3 linked regions of the Homo sapiens genome follow. The protein of the gene in region 1 interacts with the protein of each later gene in a pairwise test. Each region holds a gene or a part of one and is shown on either strand. Other genes may lie near its edges.

Evidence for each region. The genes of interacting proteins can lie anywhere in the genome.
Region 2: the proteins of STYX (region 1) and MUSK interact in a two-hybrid assay, tested with the Homo sapiens proteins (one study listed by BioGRID and IntAct).
Region 3: the proteins of STYX (region 1) and INSRR interact in a two-hybrid assay, tested with the Homo sapiens proteins (one study listed by BioGRID and IntAct).

The regions. Positions count from the first base shown.
Region 1 is NC_000014.9:52,747,030-52,754,195, reverse strand, and holds part of STYX (serine/threonine/tyrosine-interacting protein), read right to left. Parts: intron 3,514-7,166; coding exon 3,416-3,513; intron 1-3,415. UniProt on the Homo sapiens protein: Catalytically inactive phosphatase. Acts as a nuclear anchor for MAPK1/MAPK3 (ERK1/ERK2). Modulates cell-fate decisions and cell migration by spatiotemporal regulation of MAPK1/MAPK3 (ERK1/ERK2).
Region 2 is NC_000009.12:110,692,791-110,699,790, forward strand, and holds part of MUSK (muscle, skeletal receptor tyrosine-protein kinase isoform 1 precursor), read left to right. Parts: intron 1-2,612; coding exon 2,613-2,740; intron 2,741-4,534; coding exon 4,535-4,676; intron 4,677-7,000.
Region 3 is NC_000001.11:156,839,563-156,842,117, forward strand, and holds the end of INSRR (insulin receptor-related protein precursor), read right to left. Parts: coding exon 2,550-2,555; coding exon of another isoform or gene 2,519-2,549; intron 2,233-2,518; coding exon 2,103-2,232; intron 1,967-2,102; coding exon 1,832-1,966; intron 1,543-1,831; coding exon 1,311-1,542; 3' UTR 501-1,310; downstream 1-500. UniProt on the Homo sapiens protein: Receptor with tyrosine-protein kinase activity. Functions as a pH sensing receptor which is activated by increased extracellular pH. Activates an intracellular signaling pathway that involves IRS1 and AKT1/PKB.

The DNA of each region.
Region 1 (7,166 bases):
AAAATTCAGGCCGGGCGCAGTGGCTCACGCCTGTAATCCCAGCACTGTGGGAGGCCAAGGCAGGCGGATCACGAGGTCAGGAGTTTGAGACCAGCCTGACCAACATGGTGAAACCCCGTCTCTACTAAAAATACAAAAATTAGCCAGGCGTGGTGGCACATGCCTGTAATCTCTGCTACTCAGGAGGCTGAGGCAGAAGAATTGCCTGAACTTGGGAGGCAGAGGTTGCAGTGAGCCCTGCATTCTAGCCTGGATGACAGAGCGAGACTCTGTCTCAAAAAAAAAAAAAAAAAAAAAAAAAAATCAGTGTTTTGGGATATTCCTTTTTAATAACTAGTTTTAATAAACTAAATATGGTGTAAAAAAAAAACACTACAAAAGTAAAGAGTCAGCCCTCCATATCCAAGAATTTCATACCTGTGGATTCAACCGACAACAATAAAAAACATTAACAAAAAATAAGGTAAAATACAACACTAAAAATAATAAAAATAAAATCCAATACTATTCACACAGCACTTACACTGTACTAAGTATTAGAAGTAATCTAGAGATGATTTAATGTATATGAGAGAATGTGCACAGGTTATATGCAAATATTACACCAGTTTATATAAGGGACTTGAGCATCTGAGGATTTTGTTATTCATGGGGGTTCCTGGAGGCAATCCCCCATGGATATCAAGGGTACCATGAAAAATATGTCCCTCGGCTGAGCGTAGTGGCTTACGCCTGTAAATCCCAGTGCTTTGGGAGGCCGAGGTGGGCAGATCACGAGGTCAGGAGTTCGAGACCAGCCTGGCCAACATGGTGAAACCCCGTCTGTACTAAAAATACAAAAATTAGGCCAGGTGCGGTGGCTCACACCTGTAATCCCAGTGCTTTGGGAGGCTGAGGCAGGTGGATCAAGAGGTCAGGAGTTCAAGATCAGCCTGGCCAAGATGCTGAAACCCCGTCTCTACTAAAAATACAAAAAAAATTATCTGGGAGTGGTGGTGGGCACCTGTAATCTCAGCTACTTAGAAGGCTGACGCAGAGAATTGCTTAAACCTGGGAGGCGGAGGATGCAGTGAGCCGAGATCATGCCACTGCACTCCAGCCTGGGCAACAGAGCGAAACTCTGTCCAAAAAAAAAAAAAAAAAAAAAATTAGCTGGGTGTGGTGGCACATGCCTGTAATCCCAGCTACTCAGGAGGCTGAGGCAGGAGAATCGCTTGAACCCAGGAGGCAGAGGTTGCAGTGAGCCAAGATCACACCACTGCACTCCAGCCTGGGTGACAGAGTGAGACTCCATCTCAAAAAAAAAAAAAAAACAACAACAACAAAAAAAAACAAAATTAAAAACGAAAGAAAAATACGTCCCTCTACCATCACAGGCCCTGAATTTTCCTTCTTAGAAGCAATCACTATGAAGTTTCTAGCCTCTTGGTCCAGAAATTTTCTATGCATATATTAAGAATAAATATATGGAATGTAGTATATATATATTTACTCAACACATTGCAAATATATACATTGTTCCACACCCTGCTTTATTCATGTAATGCATTATCTTGGAGATCATCCCAAATCCAAACACATACATATATTTCATTCTTTTTCATGGTTACATAGTATTCTATTATATGTTCACACAATGTATTTTAGAGTATGTATCTTGTATTTACAGATATTTATAGATTGGTTTCATTGTAAAAATAAAGCAGAGCATTAAATTTTTTTTTTTATTTTTGAGACAGAGTCTTGCTCTGTCGCCAGGCTGGAGTGCAGTGGGGCAATCTTGGCTCACTGAAACCTCTGCCTCCCAGGTTCAAGTGATTCTCCTGCCTCAGCCTCCTGAGTAGCTGGGACTACAGGCATGTGCCACCACGCCCAGATAATTTTTGTATTTTTAGTAGAGACGGGGTCTCACTGTGTTGGCCAGGACAGTCTCAATCTCGACCTCGTGATCCACCCTCCTCAGCCTCCCAAAGTACTGGGATTATAGGTGTAAGCCACAGCGCTGTTTTTTTTTTGTTTTGTTTTGTTTTGTTTTTGAGACGGTGTCTTGCTCTGTTGCCCAGGCTGGAGTGCAGTGGTGTGATCTCGGCTCACTGTAACCTCTGCCTTCTGGGTTCAAGCAATTCTCCTGCCTCAGTCTCCTGAGCTGCTGGGATTACAGGCATGTGCCACCACGCTCAGGTAATTTTTGTTTTAGTAGAGATGGGGTTTTGCCATGTTGGCCAGGCTGGTCTCGAACTCCTGACCTCAGGTGATCTGCCCACCTCGGCCTCCCAAAATGCTGGGATTACAGGCGTGAGCCACCGTGCTGGCCTAAAATATTTTTAACATATATACTTTTACATAGATATTGAAGGAAGAAGCTGCCTCCCAGGATAGGAGCAAGGTGGCTTGGGTTAAGAGAAAAAGTAGAGTTACTTTCATTATATATGTTTACATATCCTTTCACTTTTGTACCATGCGTAATATACTCTATTTTAAAAATGAAGTTAAAATAAAGAACATTAAAAACCATTACATGCTCAACTGAACTTACAAGATAAATAAGAACATCAAATGAGATACCATTTTTACTCCATTAGACTTTGAGAAATTAAAAATGTTTCACAATTCCGTCTTGGAGAGATACTAAGGGAAGAGTCACTCTCACATACTTGATAATGGGAATGTACACTGATACAACGCACTGGAAAACAATCTGCAACATCTATCAAAATTTAAAATGTTCATACTCTTATATCCAGCAATTCTGCAAATAAGCCCTATCAATATGCTCACATATAAATTGAGTAATATGTACAATGATAGTCACTATATGCTATACATATTAGTACAAGGCCAGAAACAATCTAAATATCTAACAGACTAATTGAATAAATTTTAGTATAGCCATACAATGGATTACAATGCAACTTAAAAAGAATAAGCAGTTTGATATACATACCGATATAAACCAATCTCCAAAAAATATAAAGTAAAAAAGAAAGCCAATGTAAAAAAAAATTTATCTATAAGACTATGCTCATAAATTTAACCTAACACTCAAAAACTACCCAATAAAGAGGTAACAGTAGATGCTGTTTCCCTAAACCTATCCCCTAGATACTCAATTCCTTTATCCCTCAAGAGATAAAATAATGTACACTAAAACCTATTTTTCAGTATACATTATTTTTAAATTCTTTTTTATTTTTACTTTCCCAGAAACTTCTTGACAATATACACTCTTTTGAACCTTTAGAATTCTGCATTATGGGCATAATTTATTTAAGTATTTTAAGTAAAATTTATTTTAAAAAACTATGTACTATATGACCCATTTTTACAAACTAGATATGTACAGAAACAACTGATGGTACAAAACCTGAAATGAAACTTCATTAAGTGTTTTACAAATCATAGCAATAATTCTTACCTAAATAACTGCTGAAAGTTTGGTTTAATAAAGTTTGCTTCAATATTTTGTCGTATGCATATTATATGGGTTATTCCATGTTTCTGTAGTACAGGTAGCTGTATAAAAAAAAAAGCAGGGGGAGGACAGGGAAGATAAATATTTTAAAATATCAAACATCATCTTACTATATAACACAGATGTTTGAAAATACACAGAACCCACATCTCTGCTTAAGTCCAGGGAATTAAAGCTAATTTTATAATATACCTGAAGTGGGCAGCAAGATATTTCAATGATTCAAGATTAATACATTAATGTCCTCAAAAGGTTAACAGGGATATTTCATACCTACAATTTTAGAGCTTGATGGAACCTTTATGTAAGATGTTTGGCATAGCACCTGGGACACACAGCAAGTGTTTAATAAATGGTAGTTAATATATATTGACTGCAATCTTTATTGTTTAGAGAGAACCACTAAGACATAAAACAGTTACATTACCAAATACTTGGACATCACCGACCTAGTTAACAGCAGTACTGGAACCCAAATCTCTAGACAACTCCTTGCCTCTCCCAGTATACTTTAAGAGTCAGAATTAATTTACATACTTCACAGAATCTAATTAACCTTTTACCATTTAAAAATTTTCCTGAAGTTAAAAATGGCAACTTCAATGACATCTTATTATATTCAATACAGGTTGAGTATCCCTTATCTAAAATGCTGGTCCCAAGGTAGGACCAGAAGTGTTTCAGATTTCAGATTTTGAAATATTTGCATATACATACTCAGATGTCTTGGGGATGGTATCCAAGTTTAAACACAAAATTCATTTATGTTTCACACACACCATATATACTCTGAACGTAATTTCATACAGTCATTTGGTGCATGAAACAAAATTTTGACAGTGACCCATTACATGGGGTCAGGTGTGGAATTCACTTGTGCTGTCATGCTGACACTCAAAAAGTTTCACTTTGGAGCATTTCAGATTTTTCAGATTAGGGATACTCAACCTGTAGTGCTTTTGGCTCCATACTTAAAGCAATTTAACATGACAATTCTAGAAATTACCAGATAATAAGTTTTCATTTGCTAGTGATAAGTTTAAGTGAGTTTATAGATGTTATTTTATTACCTAGAGCATTAAGTTCCATGACAGAAAAGATTTTTATTTGTTCACTGATACATAGTATGTGTAAAATGTATAATACAATTCACTTAAGTATCAAGTATGTATAACTAGTTAAGTTGTTCAATAATTACCTGTTCAATAAATGAACTAACAAGTCACGATGGCATGAGAATCAGATAACCTTGAATTTCTTGACACATTGTTTTAAATCCTATATATTTAATTCCCATTTTCTGCATTTTAAATAGTACAAAACAGTAGCACTAATAATTCATGAGCAAAGTAAAAAAAAATAATTTATATGTGTTATGAACTAAATGTTTGCATCACCTCAAATTCTTATGTTGAAATCCTTACCCCCAAGATGTGATGGTGGAGTCTCTGGAAGATAATCAGTTTTAGATTGAGGTCATGAGGGTAGAAACCTCCATGACAGGATTGTACCCTTGTAAGAAGAGGCAAGAACTCGTTCTCTTGGCCGTGTGAGGATACAGCAAGAAGGGAGGGATCTGCGAGCCAGCAAGAGGGTCCTCACCAGAGCCGGACCATGACTGTGGACTTGCCAGCCTCCAGAACTCAAATAATCGTCTGTTGTTTAAGCCACCCTGTCTATGGTATTTTGTTTGAGCAGCCTGGGCTAAGACAATATAATTTGCAAGTTTTAAGTGTTAATTTCTGCAGCAAGTTTTATGTCAGCATAGATTAGAATTCAATTATCTTTGTATTTCTTGAGTATAACTTGAGTTAGGGAAAGTGAGATAAGCATTTGGTAAGATTAATAATTAACCAATGTTCTATATTGAGATTTGTGCCAATTTCCACAACAAATTCAACATTAAGTCCTTCGTTTACACTTGATGCCTATGGAGTTTTCCTATCTACTTTATGAATGTGAGAAAGCACAAGACGATGCACATAATTATGTATAAATATGCTTAAACAAGTTTTGAAGGCCCAATAGACTACTACTAAATAAAAATAAACTATCAAAATAGAGCCCTAACGTAACAGCGAATAGATTTTGTACTTTTCAGAGGCAGATCTGCAATTACTTTTGCACCAACCTAATATGAAGCAAATTATGACCTTACCTCACATTTAAAAACAGTAGAAAAACTTTACAAAAACAAACCGTTTACTAATTACAAAGGCCCTAAATTTGTCCCTTTTATTTAAACTGTATTTGAATTTAATAAAAAGATATACTTAAGTAAATGTGGCCAGCATAGCCAGACTCCATCTCTACAAAAACTTTGAGAATTAAGCCAGGCATGGTGGTGTGTGCCCGTAGTCCTGGCTACTTGGGAGACTAAGGTGGGAAGACAGCTTGAGCCCAGGAGTTTGAGGTTACAGTGAGCTATGAGAGCGCGCCACTGTACTCCAGCCTGGGTAACAGAGCAAGACCCCACTCCTCTCCCACAAAATAATAACAGTAAATGAGTGTTTAAAAAGGAGTTTATCCATTTAGGTTTATCTCCATTATTATTTTTTGTTGTTGTTTTTAGATAATGGTATGAAAAGAAATATGGGCTATATTATGGTTACCTAGGGTGGGAAATAAACTGCCACAGAGGCTTTTCCTGTCTAATAAGACCATGGTGACATTTCAAGAAAAGAAGTTTTGAAGAACTAGACCTTTTTTTGTGCGTGTTTTTGTTTCATTTTGAGACAAAGTCTCACTCCGTCAACCAGGCTGGAGTACAGTGGTGCCATGTTGGCTCACTGCAACTTCTACCTCCCAGATTCAAGCAATTCTCGCGCCTCAGCCTCGCGAGTAGCTGGGATTACAGGTGTGTACCACCATAACCAGCTAATTTTTGTATTTTTAGTAGAGACGGGGTTTTGCCATGTTGGCCAGGCTGGTCTCGAACTCCTGGCCTCATGTAATCCGCCTGCCTCAGCCTCCCATTGAGGAGATAGACCTTTAAACAAATACTTTAATTTAATGTGATAAATACTGTATGTATATTTATAAAGTACAGTGGGAATTTCAAAAATGTAAATTATCTAAAACCATCTGGAAGACTAGTACTTGGTGAATAGCAAATTATATGGACAATAACCTTGTTTACATCTGTCTTTTACAAAATAAATTACGGCTATGTCTATAGTTACCTGCCCTATCCTTTCCCTAGTACTTATTTTTACTAACTCCCTATCTTTCCAACTAAGCAAAAATCATCAAGATGACCAGGTTTACTCTTAGCCATGTCTCAACTGTCAAAAAAATCTTCCAGTTTCAAAATCAATGACCTTTTAAAACCGGTTAAATTCCTAAGAACATCAAATTAAATTATGGATATATCAAACACAATTTAAGTATACTGACTTCTGAATAGGCAAAGTATTGGGGAAAGACATCTATGATATGTTCCACGTTGTAACTCAAAGAGAATTAGTAGCATTGAATCTTTTAGAAGTGGCAAGAACATTGCTATATTTATTAAAATGAGATCTACCTATTTTAACTGCAACTGAGTAAGTCCATTAAAGTTTGACTATGTAGAATATCTATACGGATTGAATATCCCTTATTTAAAATGCCAGGGACCAGAAATATTTCAGAGTTTGGATTTGTTTGTTTTGCCTATTTGCATTATACTTATAATTGAGCATCCCTAATCCAA
Region 2 (7,000 bases), on another chromosome or scaffold:
CACTAGTGCATCTTTTAAAAAGACATTTTCTTTTTTCCCCTGCATTACTTTTATTTCCTTCAGAAAAAAAAAAATTGATTTTGTTTGGGTTCCATCCTTTTATGTTTACAATTTTTCTCAAATTGATCTTTTATTTTTTGATCATAATAAATATACATGGAGTGTTCAGTTAATTAGGATAAAAAGCTGGTGGGAATAGCATGACTTTATGGAATACTGATTTGGTACTTACTGTGAGTAAGTAGGTGGGGATCTGCCTATATGCAGGCTTCCCTTCAGTATGCAGAGAAGTAAGAAATCAAATAAGGAAGTTGGAATGCTCTCATTTGCTAAATAATGAAGACTTCATTCTGAGGATGAAACACATTCAAGTATTTCCTTACTTTGTGACACTACCTTTCTTTTGAATATTTTTGCATATTCTCTCTGGCCCAATTGTTCTTGATTTGGGTTCTATACTAAATCCCCTTTTCTTTTCTTGCCTTCTTTTTTCCAACCTCTCCTTTGGAGATCTCATCCATTCATGTGGATATACACCGGTGTGGCCATTCCAATTGCTAAAATTTTGGAATGCTTCCATACTTCTTGGAAAGATCCGTTTTATAAGGCTCCCGAGATCCCCCAACCCCTATCACTACTCCAGCTCTCTTAAGCCCTCCCCCAAGAGCTCCCTCCCCTAAATTCCTAATGGTCCATCAGCTAAAGTCTCAATGCTGGCACAGCGGGATACTTCCAGCATCCTGCTTTAAGGTGACCAGTTCTGATTGGTCAGTACTTATGACTCCACCCTGAATCATGTTCCCTTACAGTGGGGATCCATGGCTATGCGTCAATACCCTAGTCATTCCTAGTTGACTTTACATTCAATTTCCCAAAAGGGAATTCCTCACCCCTCACCTAACAGATGACCAAGACATCAAGTCACTGAGAAGATAGGAGATTTTTGCTTTAAGCAAAGGTCTTTACCTAAGACATTATCTGTGCCTCAGCTTTACCATAGAGATCTTGTTCAGGGAACCTATGGAAGGCATAGATAACACTTTATTTGACTGTCATAGGAATATCAAGTGCTCAGCTAAGTTTTTCCCAGCAACTGTATGACAATACAACTCACAATTGAGGAACCTGGCCAGTACTGTATTTACATGTAGGTATTTACAGTTTATTAGAAGGAGAGTTGTATGCTATAGATAGCAGGCAAAGTAATAAAGTTGTTATTTTCCTATATTTTAAAGCCTTTCTTGTATTTTTGCTATAACACAGGGCCGCAGGAACTCTAAATGACAGTGAATGCTTAGATTAAAAACCAACAGGTCTCACGCCTGTAATCCCGGCACTTTGGGAGGCCGAGGCGGGCAGAACACGAGGTCAGGAGATCAAGATCATCCTGACAACAGGGTGAAACCCCGTCTCCACTAAAAATACAAAAAAAAAAAAAAAAAAAAATTAGCCGGGTGTGGTGGTGGGCGCCTGTAGTCCCAGCTACTCGGGAAGCTGAGGCAGGACAATGGCATGAACCCGGGAGGCGGAACTTGCAGTGGGCCGAGATCGCGCCACTGCACTCCAGCCTGGGCGACAGAGCGAGACTCCGTCTCAAAAAAAAAAAAAAAAAAAAACAAAAAAACAAAACCCAACAGGTCATGAAGGCTTTGCAAGTATCTCTTACCACCAACAACACCAAAGCCCCCATTCCTCTCCCTCACATTGAAGTAGAAGAAAACAAAGTCCATATTTCATGCGTTCCTTTGTCAAAATAACAAATTGGTTACGGCACATGTCCTGCAAGAAATAAAATGTGTCCATTGCTCAGTAGTCTCTCTTGCGAAGTCCCCCTCTGTATCTGTAACGTAAAATTCCTAAGGACATAAATGTAGTTTTAACTATTTTACGAATAGTACTAAAATAACTGGCATCCTGAACTTATCAATTCTTTTGTATATTAGATTTAATAACTTTCTTTGAAAGTTTCATATTTGAGAATAAAAATTAACTGGCATAAACTATTTCTTCTGAAAGATTAAAAGTGTTTGAACAGTAAATTACATGTTTGAGTCCCCCCAAATTGTATGACAGAATTTCTTCTGATTGTTAATATAATAATATCTGGTTTACTTTCTAGAGAATGAATGTATTTAATTAATAATCATAAAATTTAATAGTCAAATTAAGATGGAAGCTAAAGGGAAAATAGGTCATAATTTCTAACTAGGTAAGAATATAGTTATATCAAAATTTTCTTTTCAAATGTTTTATGTCTATCAGTATGAATTAAATAATGTTGAATTGCTATGGTGACAGTCTATGTTAATCAGCTTTTATTAACTATCTTTTAAAATGAAGAATGCTATGGTAACTTCACACTGTTAATATTTTTCATAAATTTGTGTTTTGCTAGTAAGATTCTAATAAAGCAGAGACAACCAAGTGTTTCTAAACTGATTTCTGTTTGAGATCTACTGAGGAAAACTGTCTTTGCATTTGGTGAATTTTGTAATGTAACATGCCTCAAATGATTCTCAAAACAGATGTTTAGAATTAAATTGAAAGTTAGAAACTCTAGGTTTAATAAAGCCATATTGCCTTATTTATTTTGAATTTTCATTTCTTTTTAGAACCTAAAATAACTCGTCCTCCCATAAATGTGAAAATAATAGAGGGATTAAAAGCAGTCCTACCATGTACTACAATGGGTAATCCCAAACCATCAGTGTCTTGGATAAAGGGAGACAGCCCTCTCAGGGTAAGTGGTTATGATGTTAAAACACATATATAAAATGTATTTTAAAATATAACATTTCTTTACACACTCAGTTACACACTTACAAACTTCTAGTATAAAGTAGTTTCCATGTACATTTTAACCAAATGTAAATATTTCTGTTTGCATATATGCAAACTGCATGGCATTTCATTTGGGTCTGGCTAGGGAAAAAAGAGATGGGAACCAATAATGTTAAAGATAGAAAAGGAGGCAATGAAAAAGCAAACCTGGAATCCTTTGTATTTGTTGGCTGGCTAAATCATTTATTTTTTTTTAATGTTGAATCTGAGACTTAGGGGATGAAAAAGAAAAACTAAAACCCAGGCTTTAGAACTGACAGTTTCTGGAAGGAGGGAGGGAGACAAGGTTCGGAAGAAAAGAAATGAGATCTCTGGAGAGAAGTTAGGCGAAAAGACTCAAGACTCATACACAAATACCTTGGCAAATCCCTCCTGAGTCATGAAGAGTAGTCACGCCTGTAATTCCAGCACTTCAGGATGCCAAGGCCTGAGGTCAGAAGTTCAAGACCAGCCTGGCCAACATGGCGAAATCCTGTCTCTACTAAAAATACAAAAATTAGCTGGGTGTGGTGGTGTGTGCCTATAATCCCAGCTACTCAGGAGGCTGAGGCAGGAGAATAACTTGAACCCGAGAGGCAGAGGTTGCAAGTGAGCCAAGATCTCACCACTGCACTCCAGCCTGGGCAACAGAATGAGACTCCATCTCAAAAAAAAAAAAAGTTATTATCCATATGCTTATTTTGTACTGCCTCTGTATCTTATCCCCACATTTATTGATAAATTATTATGAGGCATCATTATTGTCTTTCCATCTTTATATCACCTAAAAGATTACAGACTATGTTTTTCATTTAACAATGCATAGTATATTTTAAGAGGAATACAAAGGTGTCACTTTATGTCAATTAACTGAACTAAGGTATAAAATTGCTCAGCTTTGCTTTATTTAAAATAAAATAAATATTGCTAATTTTTAATGATTAATTATCTGGCTTTCCTCTTGTTATAAATCTTGGTGCATTTCCTACAATGACAAACAAGGGTGGTTGTACTTATGTTACTGAATTTAGGGTTCAAAACAGAAAAGACAGATGTAATATTTAAACTCCAAAGAGTAATTTTAATATTATGTGTGAAATTTTCTAGTATTTCAAAGGACATGTACTCTTCTAAAGATACCATCTAGGGTGCAAGGTAAACCTGATAGTTAAAAGCAATGTGTTTATTTATTCATATTTCAATAGCTTTTGGGGTACTAGTGGTTTTTGGTTGCAAGGATGAACTGTATAGTGGCCAAGTCTGAGATTTTAGCGTGCCTATTACCTGAGTGCTGTACATTATACCCAGTATATAGTTTTGTATGTCTCACCACCCCACTCTGCAACATTTCCCCCTTCTAAAAGCAATGCTTTTAATCAGATTTAGCTGTGACTTTGGGGAAGCAAAATAAGCCCATATACATATATATATTATACATATACATATTATATATATAATATATATATACACACACTCATGGGATGAAAGAAAATAAAAATAAACTATACCTCATAGGACCCTGGTGAAGATTAATTTAGGTACTCTTGCACTATTTCATTTAATATTGTATGTTTTACATAATAAGTGGCCAATAAAGGTCAAAGCGATATCTTTGATGATGATAATAGTGATGACAATAAGTTGATGATATTTGGCAAATGTATCCTTGATAGACCCATAAACATTTTTGAATTCACGTCCCTATCTCTGGCAGGAAAATTCCCGAATTGCAGTTCTTGAATCTGGGAGCTTGAGGATTCATAACGTACAAAAGGAAGATGCAGGACAGTATCGATGTGTGGCAAAAAACAGCCTCGGGACAGCATATTCCAAAGTGGTGAAGCTGGAAGTTGAGGGTAAGGAGCTGCATTTCTTCCCCTGACTGTGTGACCAGGGGCCTCACTGTCTACTGTGAAGGCTGCACCTGGGCTTGGGAGAGAAGAGATGTGGGCAGCCCACTTCCCTCAGTTGTTCCAGATATTAGGCCATAAGTTCAAGCGTATGATAACAGAAAAGGAAAACTGAAAAAAGAAAGAAATTTTCACTAGTATAAAAGGTCATATTCCATTGATTACTCACAATCACTGGTAATTTTTACCAAAACAGACTAAATTTACTGTAACAGTAAAATAATAGAAACCCATTTTAGAATGCCTTCCTGGTTTGGACAATTCTTCCCTCATTTAAAGACTTGGGCATAATAATTTTAATCTTTTTAATCATACAGAACAACTTTAAAAAGATGTGATAAGGAGGAAAAAGTAGCTATTTTCAGATAGTGTTCTATCACAAAGCTTGAAAAAAAAAACATTAACTCAAATCGTAAAGCCAAAAATAATCCCAGTTCTGTGAGTTATGTTATCAAAATCGTTTTTCTTTTCTTTCTGAAAATATTTTTTAATCAGCTAATTCAATAACTTGGTGTGAAAGGTCTTCACTGAGAAATCAGAATCCAAATAGGTCTAGGTGTTCTATTTGCTTGTTAGTCGGGTCCTTCTTGACCTAAAATTGCACCACATTTTGCTTAAAAAGAACTATCAGCACACCTCTATTAGGCGAATAAACTGAGTACAAACCCTTCCTAGCTCTTCCTGTTGTATGCCAGAGAATTAACATTTTTGGCTCCTAGCTTTCTCACCTGTTAAGTGGGGTTTGCTCTATTTAATGAAGTTAGGTGTTGATAGTGTTTAGCAGAGCATCTGGTCCTTTGTGCACCCTCAATAAATGTTGGCTATAAGAATTATCATCTATTTTTCTGCTTTTCTCTTATCTGATTGATAAGTGTTAGAGTATCACATACTGGCACAAATTACAGTTCAATCAGGAAAAGACTTGAAGAGTTCTCCATATTTTACTTTGATTCTGTCCTACTTTCCTTAGGCCAAAATCTATCTTTTTCTGCATATTTCCTTCTCATTCATATAGTTTTCTATTAACTCCTTTAAGATTATTTTTATTTCCTTGATGGACATTCCTGTCACAGCTTTAATGATCTCGTTTCCCACGTTTGCCTCCAATTGAGGTAACATCTTTATTATGTCATTGTACCAATTGCTCATAAAATTTTCATTAATTCCTCATGGAAAATAATGAGGTTGGTGGGAATAGTGGCTGTCAGAATATAAAAATACATTTTCATCAAGTTGCTGTAATTTAATATCTTCTAAATAATCAGTGCTATTTGAAGCTCCGTATTCAACAACCAGTTGATATGATTTATTCAGTAAAAACTAAATAAACCTACAAACCCACCCAGACACACATTCAGACTCACTGAATATCTGTCTGCCTAGATCCAGTGTTTTCTTGTTCTGTCTAAGGAATGATGCAGAATTAATGCTATCCATTTGTATAAAATATCACAAAGAGTTTTTCTCTTTAAGATATTAAAAATAAGCTTTCTGTATTATAATATTTAATACTGATCATTTAGGTCACTAGCTTCATAGATATTAAAACAACTTGCTTTACCTTTGACCTAGAGAAAATTATCACCGAACTCCATTAGTTGGAGTTATTATACAGTTTGGTTTTGTGTTACCATTTAATTTTGTATCATGCCTGTCAGTAACATTGAATACTGCCTCTTTTCTCGTAACCTTTAAATGGTCATGCTTAGTGCTTTAAAAGTTAATATATGCTAGAGATAGTATTAAATTTGCTAGAACTGAGAGCTCATAATATCATTTAAAGTTATTCTAACTGTAGGTAAGATGATTTTCGCACACATTTAGCACACATGCCTATTTCTACCCTCATCTTAGTCCCTATTAAAATAGCCAAAATATGTGACATGCTTAGCACAATTGCTGGTACATAATAAGCATTTAATAAATGGAATCTACTATACTTATTATGATTAAAACATAAAATTGTAACAAATTTGCTTTGGCTCTGGAAGCTCTGAAAGGTTGACTTCCACTTGAATAAATAGTTGAGGTATTTTCATAAGATATAATGTAGACGTGACCTATTTAGAGGTAAGGCTAACTCAACCTACAACTCAGAACAAGTTTTTTTTTAAAAAAAAGCAACTGAGAAATGACTGGAAAAACCTCAAAAGTACATGCAGATGCCTGCTAGTTTGGCAATGATGAGGACTGAAGATGATGAGGCAGGGCCATCGTCAGTTGGGGCAGACGAGCATATGTATGTATCAAGTCGTAACTCTGCAAATTAG
Region 3 (2,555 bases), on another chromosome or scaffold:
TCCCAGGATAACCACAGGGTGCCAGACACACAGACCCTGCTCTGCTGTGTGTTCCCTGGCTTGGGTGGGGGCATCTGGCATGAACAGGTGATGTCATCAGGGCCTCTCCCTTGCCCCATGTCTGCCCACTTAAAGTCTGTCCTATGACACTCCAGAAAATACCTACCCAGTGGACCGATATAACGAACATAACAAGGGGTGAAATTAAGATGAGGTGTCCGGGACTGGTTGGTTCTGCTTGGAGGCTAGACACAAAGGTTCCCTGCCGGGCTCAACCACTTCTGGTCCTGAGCAGGAGATAATAGCAAGATTGTCCTGCCTCACTGCCATGGCAACCCTGGCTGCTCGGGTCCTCATGGAGGTGGTGTTTGACAGCAGTGTATTTATCCCGTGTCTCTGCCTTAGGGTCACCACCTCGAGTCCCAGAGGAGGGAGAAAGGAAGTTCATCCAGTGTTAACACCATGTAGATGGAGAGATAATGGGCTGCCTGGGACCAGGGTACAAACAGGCCTCAGCATTTATTGTGCCTTCTCCAGTCTTCCCATGAGAGGCAGGGGTGGGGGCGGGGCTGGGTGAGGGTGAGGGGAGGGAGGAAGATGAGGCTCTGAAAGCCTTAAGCATCCAGGGCTAATCATTGAGGGGAGGGACTGAAGAAAGGGTGACTGTACTCCAAGGGATGCCCCTGGAGAAAAGGAGGAAGGAGCACCAAGCTTGGGGAGCCCTGGGCAGGGCAAAAGGAGAGGAGGAGGTGAGGGCGGGCAGGCTGGGAACCACTCCCCAGGCCCCTGGGTTCTCCCCATGCCACCTGGTCAGTGGAGCTGAGGGGAGGAGGTGAAACCAGTGGCAAGCAAGGCAGTCATGTGGAGCCCCACCCCCCTCCCATACATGCATGGAGAGCGCCCCAGGCCTGCTTCTGATTGCTCATCTGATTTCAAACATGTCGCTGGCCCTACCTGTCCAGAGGAGACCCCAAACTGAGGGGCAGGGCCTCTAGGGTGGGCGGGCCCCCTCTTCCTAGTCTGAGTGGGGTCCCTACCTCTGAGGGCAGGACATCTCTCCCTGACCTGATCTCTACTCCTCTGGCTTTGACCCTGCTTGCTCTCCCCCGAGGGACTCAGAGTCTGAGAAACTCCTATGGTGAGACCCCTCTGCCCACCCCCACAGCCTTCCCTGCTCCTGTTCTCTGCCCCACCCTCGGCCATCCCTTGCCCTGAGTTGGGGTGGGGGTGAACATTCAGGCGTCTCAGCCACAGAGGTCGGGTCCCTTCCTGTCTCCCCATGGGAGGCCAGCCAGGGAATGAGGTGCCCCTCAGTGCCCTGGACCCCCATTTTGAGGGCTGCAGTCTCTTGGAGTGGGTGAGGAGTCAGGCTCTGCATCGGTGGTAGGCAGGGAGCCCCGGGCCCCCCGGCATTCCGGGCTGTAGTAGAAGGAGAGGAGGCGGAAGGAGGGCCGCAGCTCCTCCTGTATGCTGTCCAGAATGTGTGTGAAAGATGGGCGCAGGCGTGGGTTCGGCTGCCAGCAGCGGCTCATCAGCTCCTGCCTGGTGGGTGTGGGGAGCAGGGTCAGAGGCATCCGGGAGCCCCTGCCACGCTCTCAGCCTCCTGCACTGAGGGTCAGTTGGTGGGAGTGGGGATCGTGGGCCATTATGCCTGGGAGGGTGAGAAGGGATTAAATGGGAGTCTTGGGGGTTTGGGATAGGGGGGTGGCGCTCATAGCTGAGGGTCAGTGGATGTCAAAGCATCAGAGGAGGTGAGCCAGAATCATGGGGCCGGGTGGGGGAGGGTTGTAGGTAGATCAACAATGAGGAAGGGGCAGGGGAGGTGACTCACAGCTGAAGGGGACAGCCCTCCAGCTCCTCCAGGACCCCGCCATCCATGACGAACTTCAGCACCTGCTCATTGGACAGGCCCTGGTAGGGTTGTTCTGCCAGGGTCACAATCTCCCAGAGTACCACGCCAAAGGACCTGGGGGCATGCAGGAGCTCCTGAGCCCAGCACCCTTCGTGCTACTCAGTGCATTCCAAGGGATGGGGGTGTTCCAGGCCCCTCCCCAGATCCCGCCTCCACATCCCTGGAGCCCTGTGCTCCAGCTCGGCCCCACCAGACATCCGAGTGGGTGGTGAAGATCCCATCTTTGAGGGACTCGGGGGCCATCCAGCGCACGGGCAGCAGCCCCTTCCCACCCTTGCGGTAATAGTCTGTCTCATACACGTCCCGAGTCATCCCGAAGTCTGGAAAGTGAGGGTGAGGGTGGAGGAGGTGTGGGGCATAAGAGCCACGCACTAGCTCCTGCCCCTGGGATACCTCTCCCAATCTTCTCATCCTCCAGAGTCACCAAGAACCCTGGAAAGTAGGGGCTCAATGGACCTCAGAACTCATCCCATCCAAACCCCTCTGCCCTTGGACAAGAGACTAAGATACAGGGTGGGGGTGACTTGCCAAGGGTCTCACAGGCTGTCAGGACCAGGGCTGTGGGTCTCCTGATGCCTAGCTTAAGGGAGTCTCTCTACTTTTCAGGCCGCCCTCATCTGCCTGGCACCCTCTGTACCCCCGA